Regions from separate parts of the Homo sapiens genome. Here region 2 is linked to region 1. The links come from fine-mapping of genetic effects on gene expression. Tissue or cell type: fibroblasts. Region 1 holds a variant in brackets; the other region holds the start of a gene. All regions are shown on one strand. Distances are between the middles of the regions.

Region 1 (2,909 bases):
CAGTTCAGAGCACAGCCAGGGAACTGTTCTCAGATCTGAGAGCCAGACTTGGTAGCAGAGCTAGACAAGCTTGTCAATTGGAGAAAGACCATCAAGAGGAAGGGATCAAAGAGACAGAGGGCATATCAAATATTTGATTTATGTGGGCACTGAGGACCACACGCAGAACAGTATTGTGTAAGTTGCAGGGATGTATAGACTTGAGATCAACATAAGGAAAACCTTTGAAATAATCAGAGCTGACCATGGATGAATTGGGCTACCTTAGAGGGTTCTTTTATAAGCTTACACTGGCATTAGGCAAAGTATTGTAGAGGGTCACACACGGGCCAGTCCCTGCCTACCATGAGAATCTGAAGTTCTAGGATTCCACAGCATCCTTCATTCTCTGTGAACAGTTTGAGTCAGAGTCAGGCCTCATTTTGCTTTTCATGTGGTCAGGGATGGAGTTTGGTCCTCTAATTAGATGATTCTGAACTTTAAAAGCAGGAGGAGAGAAGTGCTTGAGAATCTGGTGACCCCAGTGTAACCTTATTAAAGTGTTGCTGTTATCCCCACCTTGGGCTGGCTGGGCCTGGGGACTCCAGTAGCTCTTGAAAATGCCTTCCTGCTGTGGCCACCACCATCCCATCATGGAATTTCCACTGTGGTGCTTCTTTCTCTATGGCTTTTCTGTGCTACCTTTCAGTGCCCAGGAGGGCAGCAAGAGGGGTCCCTGGGTGTCCCTTCTGAAAGAAGAATCATGATTTTCTGCTTCAGCTAGAACCCTCTTACTGCCCAGCTGGTGTATCTTGTGAGCTTTCTAATTTACCAGAGCAGCCATTTCATATCTTTTTGCATTACAGCCTAAGGCATCTCTCAAAAATGCTCTGATAACTCATACTAGGCATACACACATGTTGTCCGATAACAGTTTCACAAAAAGCCTATGACATCCAAATGTGAAGCAGCCAGCTCAAAGAGATCAAAGTCAAATATCCAGGGAGAGGCAGAGGCAGGACTCAAACTTTCACCTTTGACCTGAGGATCAGCATGTTTTCCTTCCATATCTGCACATCTGGCTTCCGGGATGTGTCCCTTTGTCTCTTTGCTTTATCTGCTTCATCACACATGGCACCTTTCTCCTTTCACTTCTGGTATCTTTCTTTCCCCAAAGCTTACCGCTACCTGTGCTTCAGTTCCTGTCCCGCTTCTTGTGATCTTCCTGCCAAAGATGGCAGGACTTCTTTTGTGTCCTCAATCCTTCCCACTCAATTGGTTCCTTCCTTTCTGTCTTAAATTAGTAGTACTTCTGTTGTCTTAAACTTTGCTTATTTATATTTTTCTTCTATCTAACCATCCTATTTCTCTTGCCTGGTACTGCCAAACGTACTGAGCATGTATAACTCAGTATCTCTTTGCCTCTTTCACATTTACACCCTTTCCCCCACATGCTTAGGTTTCTCTGTCTTCTGCTTTACCACAGCTACACTCTGGGAGACCAA[C/T]ACATTAATCAATTTCAAGTACCATCGTTAGTTTCCTCACCTTTTTTGATTGATCAGAAGTATTTGGCCCTGTGGACCACCTCCTATTTCTTGAAAGCCACTCCCCCAACCCCTCAGGACTTATGCAACTCTATATTTTCATAGCTGCCTTAGTCACTGATTCATTTTTATCTGGACAACCATTTCCTCATCAGTTAGATGGGAGAGGTGGGCTAGATCATTTCTGTTTTCTTCCTATTCTGTGAATTTCAGTTTCTTTTGCTGGAACTTCTTCCTGCCTGCGGACTGTGCCAATCCCTCATGACTGAGTTCTTGGCCCTCCACTTGGCTCTCTATTCTCTCACTCCCATAGAGAAATAATCTATATTCATCTCCATGTGGAGGAATTCACATCTCCATATCTAGTCCAAACTGCTCATTCATCCCTGTCTCTTATTTCCAACTGTCCACACATAGACACCACTTCATCATTTCATACTCAACACTCCCTCAACCCCAACAAGGACTTCTCCCCAACTTCCCTAATTTTTACTCATGATAATACTAGAAGCTTGGGCAAGATTGGGACAGGAAGAGGAAGCTAAGGGCTCTTAAGCTGTATTCTGAGAAAAAAAGTAATGAAGAAGTAAAAGATAGGCTCAGCGTCTGGGGGAGAAGATTTAATAGAGGAGAGAGAGAAAATGAAAGCAGTTAAATCCAAATCCCTCTCTTTCCTAGTAAGTCTTTCCTAACAACAGAATCTACCTTTAAGCCACAAATGGCCCAAGATTGCTGGGAGGGATTGAAATCTTAGAGCAGTGAGGACAGCACCTGGTTGATGTCAATGAGTTCGGATCTTCCTATTTGGTAGGTAATACCCTGGAGTAGATAAAAAGTTAAGTTATAGATGTCACTTCAGACAGTAATCTATGAGAAATGAAGATACTCTCAGATTTCTAGTCTCAAAGAACCAAAATACAAAGGCAAATGTGGCCCTAGTTTTTAAAACCCATAAAATGATAGACTCCAGAATTTAAGGACTGGAGAGCTCCTTGGTCTAGAGTGGACTTTTAAACAAAGGAAAAGTCTGTGGAGCACTTAGGAAAGAAAGCAGCAATCATTATTAGTACTTGGCTGAACTATTTCCTTTCTCCTTTGGGTTAACAGACCAGTAGATAGAAGATTCTCAGGAAATTTGATAAAATATTTTAGGTTGCACTTCCCTGTCTTCAATGTGGGCAGCTTCCTTTTCTTTCATGCCATGACTGTGCTTATAATTGCTTATTCAGTGTTTGACTTCTTCAATAGACTCTGGGTTTGATGAGCTCAGGGTGGGACCACTCCTGACCAGTTCACTGCTGCATCCACAGTTCCTAGCCTTGTAGAGACTGATGAATCAATCAAAGAGCCAATTACTCAATAGGTAGATGGAGAATGTGAGCTGGA
Region 2 (2,909 bases), 34 kb before region 1:
CTTGTGATACCAGTCCTGCTGACCTCCCCCCTCATCCTGTGACTGAGAATGCCTAACCTCCTGGGAATGCAGCCCAGTAGGTCTCAGCCTCATTTTACCCAGCCGCTATTCAAGATGGAGTCACTATGGTTCAAATGCCTCTGACAGAATCACCTTCTAAAAGTCCTATGTCCAAATGCAGTCACTTAGTGGGTACGAATTTGGCGGGGGACACAACTGAGTCCATAGCAAACAGTATTCGATTTTTAATCACATCAGCACACACAATAAGACTCTGAAAAGTGAGTCCCTTGGCTGGGCTAGGGAGAAAATTGTGACAATATGTAGTGTTCCAAAATGACCCTCCTCCCTGCATCAGGGAGGGGAGCACTCAGAACCTTCCAGCTTGGTGAACAGAATTTGTTCTCAGGCCAGGAGCCATGCTCTGTAAGTATGTTGTCTTTACATCTGGCCCAGTTTGATCTTTGGAGATAGACACATAGTGGGTCCCAGATTGTGTCCTGTTGCAAAGATCTGGAAACACAGGCTTGGGATACCTGTATATCAACAGAAACCAGACTAGCAGGTGGTAAGGCTGGCATTGTTCTGTGTTCTTAGGTTTTTTTTTGTTTTTTTTTTGTAGACGGAGTCTTGCGCTGTTGCCCAAGCTGGAGTCGTGTGGCGCGATCTCGGCTCACTGCAAGCTCCGCCTCCCGGGTTCACGCCATTCTCCTGCCTCAGCCTCCTGAGTAGCTGGGACTACAGGTGCCCGCCACCACGCCTGGCTAATTTTTTTTTTTTTTTTTTTTTGTATTTTTAGTAGAGACGTGGTTTCACCGTGTTAGCCAGGATGGTCTCGATCTCCTGACCTCATGATCTACCCGCCTCGGCCTCCCAAAGTGCTGGGATTACAGGCGTGAGCCATGGCGCCTCTTAGGTTCTTAATCACTGGGACACCCACAGGCAAGGCCTGGCTTTTTCCACAAGAAGTATTCTGGATGGAAGTAAACACATCAGTGACCTGAAAGTTCTACATGATTACAATGACTTAAGCTTGAGAATTTTTTTAAAAACAGAGAAGGGAGTAGTAAATGACTAAATATAAAGCACCTAGTGCTGTGTTTCGCAAATGGCAATCACTCGGCAGGTGTCTCAGCTCCTCGCTGCAGCAACCAGGCTTCCAGGACTGGAAGGAAGTCTTCTACATTCAAAACTAGACTCAAACTACTCCCCTCCACCACCCAGTTCTACTCCTGCGCTCGCGATCCTCCTGCCTGGCAAACTCCATGGCCCGACAGATTCACTACCACTCCACTGCCGGACCAGGCACGTCCGTGGGCCATCCACGCCTGGAAAACGGCTGGCTGGGCCGGAGGGGCGAGGCCCGCAGGCGAGGGGGGCGGGTACAAGCCACTTCTTGGGAGCCGCGGTACGCGCAGCCTTGTGGGAGTTGTAGTTTCCGCAGCTCTGAGTCTCCAGGCGAGGTGTCACCACAGGACTCGTTTTCCCGTGCTCCTGTGCGCGGGTCCACTTGGGACGGGTCCCTGAGTAGGTGAGGAGGTGGGTAGGAGCTTGCTTATAGAAAAGTGGAATCGAGTAGTCCTTGCTGGTGGAGCCGCTGCCGCCAGGGAACTCAGGGCCGGCTCCTGTTCCTTCAAGAGTGCTGGAGGCCAAACTTGAAATACAAGTTTAATGTTCCTCGTCGGGCAAAAGATAAGGATCCGATCTCCCCCGGCCCGGTGTGCAGCAGGAGCGACCAACCCCGACCCGGGTTAAAACTCCCAGGGACTCTTCGCTGCTGCCACCTCTTGTTCTCTCCCCCGTTCCCACTCGGGGTCTCCCTCAGGGCCGGGAGGCACAGCGGTCCCTGCTTGCTGAAGGGCTGGATGTACGCATCCGCAGGTTCCCGCGGACTTGGGGGCGCCCGCTGAGCCCCGGCGCCCGCAGAAGACTTGTGTTTGCCTCCTGCAGCCTCAACCCGGAGGGCAGCGAGGGCCTACCACCATGATCACTGGTGTGTTCAGCATGCGCTTGTGGACCCCAGTGGGCGTCCTGACCTCGCTGGCGTACTGCCTGCACCAGCGGCGGGTGGCCCTGGCCGAGCTGCAGGAGGCCGATGGCCAGTGTCCGGTCGACCGCAGCCTGCTGAAGTTGAAAATGGTGCAGGTCGTGTTTCGACACGGGGCTCGGAGTCCTCTCAAGCCGCTCCCGCTGGAGGAGCAGGTGAGAGGTCGGCCCGGGCTGGGGCTGGTGGGGCGAGGACCGTGTGCCAGGCCAGGAGTCTCGCCCTGACACACATCTTCAGAGCTTTACTCGCGCGGAGCGGGGCTCGGGTTGGGTCCAGAAGAAGGGAAAACAGCAGTAGCCAGTGACTCCCCAGGCTCTTGAGCAAAGGACCTGCTGGGGTTAGGACAGCCCCGGAACTTCCAGTTTTGCCCTGATGGCGCAGCCATCAGTAAGCGCTGCTTAAGACGCATGGGAGTCGCCTGGGGATCCTGCTACGTTGCAGATTCTGATTCAGCAGGTGTGGAGTAGTGCCCCAGGTCAGCATTTCTATTAAGGGTCTAGGTGAACTTGAATACAAGGGTGCAGTGCACTTCTGTGTGACCATTTTGAAGGTGGTTTGTCAGAGCTGAAGGGCTGAAGGGACTTTAGTGATAGGAACCACTCTTAACTGAGATTACAGTGGATAAGAGGTCGTTGCCTTTGGAAACAAACTTTATAACTGCTTTTTCTCAGGGTTTGCTGGAGGCCATTTGAGATCTCCTGAAGTTTTTTTTTGTAACAAGTGTTGTATTCTAGGGTTCTCCTTTTCTATTTAAGGTTACTAAACCTATAGTGGGAGGGATCTGAGGTCGGAACAAATTTAAAATGGGCTAGTCTGTGGCAGTAATGTTTTAAAAATCTGTCTGGTTTTGTCAGGATAATTA

What was found.
Region 2: it holds the start of ACP6, and the variant in region 1 is fine-mapped to the expression of ACP6 in fibroblasts (GTEx, PIP above 0.99).

What each region holds. Positions count from the first base shown.
Region 1 is chr1:147,634,669-147,637,577 of GRCh38, reverse strand. It overlaps a transcript of ACP6 not described here. Among named protein-coding and RNA genes, the nearest start is that of ACP6, 34 kb to the left of the region's middle. The variant C/T (reference allele first, on the strand shown) is at 1,485.
Region 2 is chr1:147,669,123-147,672,031 of GRCh38, reverse strand. ACP6 (acid phosphatase 6, lysophosphatidic) reads left to right here and starts at 1,508. Exons shown (of 10, transcript NM_016361.5): 1 at 1,508-2,202. The coding sequence starts at 1,984. RefSeq lists enhancers at 1,046-1,115, 1,556-1,805, 2,446-2,505, 1,717-2,660.